Linked DNA regions of Homo sapiens. The protein of the gene in region 2 purifies or fractionates together with the protein of the main gene of each other region. This does not show direct contact. Each region holds a gene or a part of one and is shown on either strand. Other genes may lie near its edges. The genes, in order: HSF2 and PIF1.

The links.
Region 1: the proteins of PIF1 (region 2) and HSF2 purify together in Homo sapiens (affinity purification with a luminescence readout; one large-scale study listed by IntAct). This does not show direct contact.

The regions. Positions count from the first base shown.
Region 1 is NC_000006.12:122,406,124-122,409,937, reverse strand, and holds part of HSF2 (heat shock factor protein 2), read right to left. Parts: intron 1-3,814. UniProt on the Homo sapiens protein: DNA-binding protein that specifically binds heat shock promoter elements (HSE) and activates transcription. In higher eukaryotes, HSF is unable to bind to the HSE unless the cells are heat shocked.
Region 2 is NC_000015.10:64,822,534-64,826,850, reverse strand, and holds the start of PIF1 (ATP-dependent DNA helicase PIF1), read left to right. Parts: upstream 1-1,203; 5' UTR 1,204-1,282; intron 1,283-2,046; exon of another isoform or gene 2,047-2,223; intron 2,224-2,496; 5' UTR 2,497-2,515; coding exon 2,516-3,073; intron 3,074-4,240; coding exon 4,241-4,317. UniProt on the Homo sapiens protein: DNA-dependent ATPase and 5'-3' DNA helicase required for the maintenance of both mitochondrial and nuclear genome stability. Efficiently unwinds G-quadruplex (G4) DNA structures and forked RNA-DNA hybrids.

The DNA.
Region 1 (3,814 bases), on a different chromosome or scaffold from region 2:
TCAAATGGGGGGATAATCAGGAAAGAAAAGGATTAAGAAATTTTCCATTTGGGAAGAAAAATAAGAGCTCGATGTCATCTTACTCTTTACAAGCAAGCTTTTGGAGACATGACATAATAAACCCAGAAGACATATAGATAAAATATAAATTTATCCATGGAGACTGCTAGCTTCCTACTCTATCTCTACTCTCCTCTACTTTCTTCCTAACAGAAACACAATTTTGATGAAAAACACATTGTGAAATTTAGAAGAGACCCAGACTCATAAATGAAGAATGTAGAGCAAAACAAATAATGATTTTCCCTTATTAGATTAAATTTACAACCCTTGACAATAACCAGTATTGGCAACTAGGTAATTATCAAAATTAAAATGCTTAAAATGCATACGTCTTTTCCTATCTTAAAAGAACTTTCCCTCTTATACCTTCTTTTTCAATCTACCCATCTGTCTTTTCCTTAACTGCAAAATTTAACAAGCAGGTATTTTAAACCCCCCTTCTCCAATTCAGGACCATCCACTTACTCTCACTGAAAACTGCTTTTGGTTCCCTCACTCGACTGAAACCAGATTTCTAAAATGTCAAATATCAAATTCAATGCCCTCTTTTCAGTCCTGATCTTCCTACACCTCTCTGTGGCATTTCATTTGGTACAACTAACAATCTCCTCCTTAAATGTTCGACTCTCTGGGCTTTGATGCTAAACACTGTTGAGTCTCTTATCTCTTATATTTCCTTTCAATTTTCTTCCACCTATCAAATAAGAGGTAGCTGTATTTTCCAGGTTTTTATCCTTAATCGTGGCACCATTCATATTCTTTCCTTAGAATTCATCCACAGTAGGGTATCTTATTATTGACTTTATTTTATAATAAACACATCTACAGCTCTGTCCCTGATCATCTCAAATTACACACTTCAATTTAAAATGTTAACATTTTTTACACTATGTTCTTTAACTCAGTATGTTCTAAACCCATTTCCTGTTTCCCCGGAAGTCAATCTTTTCTTGTGTCTTCCATTCTACCAAGTCCCTTCCTCACTAAGTCACCCGACAACATTTGATGTCAAAAAAAAAAAAAAAATGAAGTTAAAAACTCTCATTCTAACAGCTAGTAAGGGGGAAACATTAAAACATTCCCTTTAAAAATTAAGAACAAAGCCAGAATGCCATGATAATTGCTTCTACTCACTCTTAGTTACTGCCAAAAGAAAAACGGAAGGCATAAAGGTCTGAAAGGAAGAAAATAAATGTCAATCACAGATACTATGGGTGTACTCAGAAAACTGAAATCAGTAAAATGATTTGCTCACTGATTTATTATCAATATACAAAAATTACTTGTATTTCTAATTACCAGCAACAGCTAGAAATCTATTTTTAAGTCAAGAACACCATTTACAACATATATAAGATATCCAGGAAGAAAATGAACAAAGATCCACAAGGCCTAATAGCAAACATAAATCAACAAAATGAATTTAGAAATATGCCTTGTCATGAGAATACACAACACAGAGATATCGATTTTCCCTAATCTGATTTATATAGTTTTGATCCAATTGCAGCAAAAATCCAAAAGGCTTTTTTTTTTTTTATGGAACTTGATTTTAAAACATATGTGGAAGAGCTAAAGACCAAAAATACTTAAGGCACTCCTGAAGGATAGATTACCCTACCAAAAGACTTTTTCTGAAGCTACAGTAATTAAGACAGCAGAAGACAGGCACAGGATAAATTGTCCAATGGAATGGCATAAAGACTCCAGAAACAAAACCACTGAATGTTTGTGTCCCCCAAAATTCTATGTTGAAACCCTTGCCCCTGATATGATGGTATTTGGAGTTAGAGCCTTTGGGAGGTAATTAGGTTCAGAGGAGGTAATGAAGATAGGACCCCCCAGGTTAGGTTGGTGTCCTTATAAGATAAGAGAGACCAGAACACACTCTCTCTCTCTCTCTCTCTCTCTCTGCCATTGGGAAGACACAGAGAGAAGGCAGCTGTCTGCAAAGCAGAGAAAGCTCTAACACAGGAACTGAAATGGCCACTGCCTTCATCTTGGACTTCTCCACCTCCAGAACTGTAAAAAATAAACGCCTGTTGTTGAAGCCACCTGGTCTATGATATCTTGCTACGGCAGCCCAACTGATTAAGACAATATCTACACGTACTTGTGACGTAAGATAGAAGTGGCAATATAGATCATTGGAAAAGGAAGAACTACTCAGTAAAGGTGCTAGACAACTAAAATGTAAAAAGCCACAAACTGGAAGATATGGCCAAAACATAAACTCGAATATGTAGAATATATAGGAATTCTCACAAATAATAAAAAAAAAAACAGAAAAATGGCAAAACAAACATTTCACAGAACAGGAAACACAAATGGCCAACGAACGTGAAAAGGTTTTAGAACTCATTAATAATCAAGAAAATATAAATCAAAACCTCATTGAGACAATGCTTTACATCAATTAGATTGGTAAAAAGTAAGAACGATAACTAATACACAGTTTTGAAGAGGCAGATTAACAGAAAATCTCATACATGGCTAATAGCGGAATAAGCTGGTGTGATCTCTTTGGAAGATAATTCACACTATCTTGAGGTTAGACATTTCATATCCTATATCCCAGCAAGTCACATGAGTGTACAGACCTTAGAGAAACTCTTGCTTATATACACCAGGAGAGATATACAAGAATATTCCTAACAGCATGTGACACAGTTGATCTCTTTCCTGAGCCATTTTCTTTCATTAACTTCTGTGGGTTCACTCCCTTGATTTTCCTTCTTTTTCACTGTTCCGTCTCAGCCTCCTTTGCTGGCTTTTGTCTTCATACTCTCTAAATGTTGGAATAATACATCTTTTGGTTCCTTCTATCTTCACAGAAGATGATTTCATTAAGTCTCCTGGCTTTACCAGTTACAAGGTCTAAACTCCACCCTGAATGCCAAAGTCTTATACTCAACCACCTATTCAACATTTCCACTTGGACATTTTGGAGTGTGGAAGTCAGTCAAGCTGTTCAAAAATACTCCTGTTTTTTTTTCTAGCACTGCACTTCCTCATCCCTTTTGAAATTAGGTGTGGCCATATGACTAGGCATGGTCAAATTTAAGAAAAATTAAACAATTTTCAAGTTGTTTCAAATACTACTAGAGATCCATTTTTAATCTCAAAGTTAATATGCCAAAAAGAATCTCTAACATCTTTCCTCAGCAAATGGATTTATCCTGTAGTTCAAACCAAATTTATGAATCATTTTTAATTGTCGTTCCTCCAACCATAGCCAATTTATCAATTTATCAGCAAATCCTGCAGCTTTGCCTTCAAAGATTTCAAAGCTACATCTCAATACCTTGACTGCTGCTACCTTAGTCTCAGCCATCAATATTTTCAATACCATACAGGAAAACTGTGATAGTCTTCTAACTGGTCCCCTCATTTCCAATCTTCTTACTATAGATCTAGGGCCCTATACCATCTGCTCCTGCCTACCTCCCTACTCTCACTCTCCTAATTCCCTAAAGATATTCTAATCACATGGGCCTTCCTGCTTCCTTGAACAGCCACATTCAAGGCCTTACCTTTTGTCATTCCCCTTTGGCCCATCTTTTCTAATCATTTAGATCTCTCCTCAAACATCGTCTCCTTGGAGAGGCTTTCCTCATCACCTTACCTAAAATATTCACAAATCCTAGTCTGTTTATGGGCCAGTTATCAATTTATTGCTCCAAATTCATTCTTCATTGTCTGCTCTACAAGCATAGAGCTTGGTTCCTTAAATAAATATCTTTCTTTTTCT
Region 2 (4,317 bases):
GGGAGGCCACGGTGGGTGGATCGTTTGACCTCCGGAGTTCGAGACAAGCCTGGGAAACATGGTGACATCCCGTCTATACGAAAAAAAAATTATATATATATATGTGTGTGTATATATATATATGTGTGTGTATATATATATGTGTGTGTATATATATGTGTGTGTATATATGTGTGTGTGTGTGTATATATATATATATATATATATATATATATATATATATATAAATTAGCTGGGTGTGCATCTGTAGTTCCAGCTACCTGGGGGGCTGAGGCGGGAGGATCACCAGAGCCCAGGAGGCGGAGGTTGCAGTGAGCCACGATCGCGCCACGGCAGAGGTTGCAGTGAGCAGAGATTGTGCCACTGCACTCCACTACAGCCTGGGCGACAGAGTGAGCCCTAAGAAGGAAAAAGGAAAGGAAAGGGCAATTTAATCCATGGTAGTTATCATTATCTGTAAAATGAGGTAGCCAGACTCACCTGTAAGATCCTTTCCAGCTATGTAATTCCAAGCTTCAATGAGATAATAAAGATGATTAAAAGTAAATTCTTTCAGCATCCTGTGCAAGAAGAGGGATACAATTTCCCTGAAGACAGAGACTCTACTCGCTTCCGCTGTACCCTCTGGCACGTGGCACAGGTCTCAGAGTTTCTCACTCATGGGCCTCAGGTGGGTGAGAGAGCCAAAGCGTAAAGTCCCTTACAAAGGCAGAGAAGGATGTAGAGTTGGGGGCGGGGGAGGGATTGGGCAGGCCTTGGGGTGGTCTGCCCAGAACTGGACAATGGTACTGTGAGTGTAAACAGGGGTGTGAGAGTCCAAAGGCAGATCTTCCCCAAGGCTAAGCCCAGCCTCTGTGTGCGGGCTAGAGGGGAGAGGGAGTGTGCTGGAAGGATGGTTCTGAAAATAAATCTTCGGAGTCGCGTAGGGTTTTCAGACCCGACACCACGCGCCGCCGGGTGGCTGCCGCAGCGGCGGCCTCCTCCCACCACGCCCAGCCGTCCACTGGATTTGGTATGCTCAGCCACCACCATAAACCTCCTTCCTCTAGCAGGCAATTGGTACAGCCCAAGCTCCTGGAGTAGAGACGCAAAGAAAGACACGCCCATTGTTACGCCCCTACCTCTGAGTGGCTGGAGAATTTAAAGATCCAGTCGGTGATTGGGTGATTTTCTGCCTCTAGCATTTGAAAAATTTCTAGTTTCGGAGCTTAGCCACAGGCCGGCTACGATCTGCTTGTTCATCTGAGTGTCGGCACAAGTGAGTGTCTGCCCGAACCCAGAGGTGGGGAGCAAAGAGCCTGATTTATCTAGGGGTTTCCGGCGGGAGGGTGCAAACAAATGGGTCAGCCTGAGGGAGCACGGCTTCTAGGGTCCCAGGGTCCCCCGCGATTTCCCTAGCCGAATATTTTCCACCTCGTCCCCACCTTGGTGGTGGGAAGCGCGAGGGCATGGGAATCACACTGACTTTGACTACTAGCCGCTGTGGCTTATGAAGGGCAAGTGAGTTTCCCTCTCTTAGCCTGTTTCCACGTCTGTACACGGGGAAGAGTGAGACCTGCCCGCTGCATATAAGCCAGTGAATGTACCTACAAGGCAGAAGTCGCTTATTACACGGCAGCCCTCTTTGCATCTCCCCACGGGCGATTCTCCTGCTTCCTGGGGAGAGTACTCTGAGGATTCATGTGCTCGCCCTGGGTCTCGGGGAAGGAGGATTCTTTCTGCGCAGGGACCCCTGTTCTAGTGAGGTCCTTGCAGGACACCTGAGGCTCCCTAATCCTCGGTGCCCATCCGCCGCTCTGGAAATTGTTGTGTAGCACGGTGTGTGTGTATATGTGTGTGTGTGTGTGTGTGTATATATATAGAAATTGTATATATATTGTGTGTATATATATATAGAAATTGGATATATAGAAATGGAAATTGTGTAGCAGGGTGCGTGTGTGTATATATATATATACATATATATACACACACACACACACATATATATAATGTATGCATATGTATGTATTTATATGTATGTATTTTTTTTTTAATTAGAGGGTGTCGCTATGTTGCCCAGGATGGTCTCGAGTTCCTGGGCTCAAGCGATCTTCCTTCTTCAGCCTCCCAAAGTGCTGGAATTACAAGCGCCCGCCACCACGCCCGGCTAATTTTTGTATTTTTAGTAGAGACGAGGTTTCACCATGTTGGCCAGGCTGGTCTCAGAACTCCTAACTTCAGGTGATCCGCCCACTTTAGCCTCCCAAAGTGCTGGGATTAAAGCGCGAGCCACTGCGCCCGGCCCAGGGCATATTCTAAGGGTGGATTTTCGGTTAGCCCAAAGCCCTTTCTCCGTCTTTGTGACCTCTTTGTGTTACCAGTGACAGTCCTCGTGATCTTGTGTAGCCTTGACCCTGCTCCCTGTCACGTCCTTTATAGCACCCATTACGTCCCCTATAGCACCCATTACGTCTCATGAATCCTCATGACCCCTGTGCTCCGGTGTCTTCGCAGACCAGCAGAGGCGGTGACGATGCTCTCGGGCATAGAGGCGGCGGCAGGGGAATATGAGGACTCGGAGCTGCGGTGCCGCGTGGCTGTGGAGGAGCTGAGCCCGGGCGGGCAGCCGCGAAGGCGCCAGGCCCTGCGCACCGCGGAGCTGAGCCTGGGTCGCAACGAGCGCCGCGAGTTGATGCTGCGGCTGCAAGCGCCAGGGCCCGCGGGGCGGCCGCGCTGCTTTCCTCTGCGCGCCGCGCGCCTCTTCACGCGTTTCGCCGAGGCCGGGCGCAGCACCCTGCGGCTCCCCGCCCACGACACCCCCGGGGCCGGCGCAGTGCAGCTGCTGCTCTCGGACTGCCCCCCAGACCGCCTGCGCCGCTTCCTGCGCACATTGCGCCTCAAGCTGGCTGCGGCCCCGGGTCCCGGGCCGGCCTCCGCCCGAGCGCAGCTGCTGGGCCCGCGGCCCCGCGACTTCGTCACCATCAGCCCTGTGCAGCCCGAGGAGCGGCGGCTCAGGGCGGCCACCCGGGTTCCGGACACTACGCTGGTGAAGCGGCCTGTGGAGCCCCAGGCTGGGGCCGAGCCTAGCACAGTGAGGACGGGAAAGAAGGGACACCTTTAGGAGTAGATGTGCCATTCTTTAAGATGGCAGAGACCTAGAGACCCAAGTTTGAGGGGAAGCCGGTGTGGGTATTTGATACCCATCTGACATCTCAGTATGACAGGGGTGTGGGAATTGTGCCTGTGGTTGTTATAGTGTAATCCCTGAGATGGAGTAAATCAAAACAGGAAATGGGACCTGGCTACATTAAAAGAGAAAGCAGAGGCCGGGCATGGTGGCTCACGCCTGTAATCCCAGCACTTTGGGAGGCTAAAGTGGATCACCTGAGGTTAGGAGTTCTGAGGCCAGCCTGGCCAACATGGTGAAACCTCGTATCTACTAAAAATACAAAAATTAGCCAGGCGCGGTGGCGGGCGCCTGTAATCCCAGCTACTTGGGAGGCTGAGGCAGGAGAATAGCTTGAACCCGGGAGGCAGAGGTTGCAGTGAGCCTAGATCGCGCCACTGCACTCCAGCCTGGGTGACAGAGCGAGACTCTTCCTCAAAAAAAAAAAAGAGAGAGCGAGAGAGAAAGAAGAGAAGGAGGCTTGCAAAGGACTACAGAAAGAATGCTGGGAGAGGGTAATAGGCCCAGAGTAGAGGAGCTTATGGAGAGAATGAAGTGGTCATTCGTGTCCTGGGCAGCCAACAGTTGAAGCAGATGAGGGGAAAAAAGTCTGGTGGGTTTGACAATTTTCATGGGCTGGGGCAGGTGAATCATAGCCCACCAGGGTTTGACACTAAGCTGGCGAGAGGACAGAGACAGGATAAGAAGGGGCCCTGGCTAGACAGGGTTTTGCTTGGGTATTTTGAGGTGAGAAACAGGTTTGTGATAGGAAGAGAAACTTAGGTGACAGGAAGGAAACTTTAGTGACAGGATGAGAAGGGTTAGGGAACCCAGGGGAAGGAGCTAAGGGAGGGTGTAGACCACACTGGTGTGGTCTGCCCAGGACTGGACAATGGGGGTCTTCAGGGCACAAGGAGAGATCGGGACCCCAATAGTTGCTGGCAAGCTCTCCAGGCAAACCCAAGAGCTCCATGGAATGAAGGCAGTAGAGGACAAAGGGTTACCAGGCCCAGCATTGCACATGGGCCAAGAAGGGTGGGGGCAATGCCTAGCGGGTGGGAGGATGCTCTGAGATAGCTCTGTTCCCCCCAGGAAGCCCCAAGGTGGCCCCTGCCTGTGAAGAGGCTGAGCTTGCCCTCCACCAAGCCACAGCTTTCTGAGGAACAGGC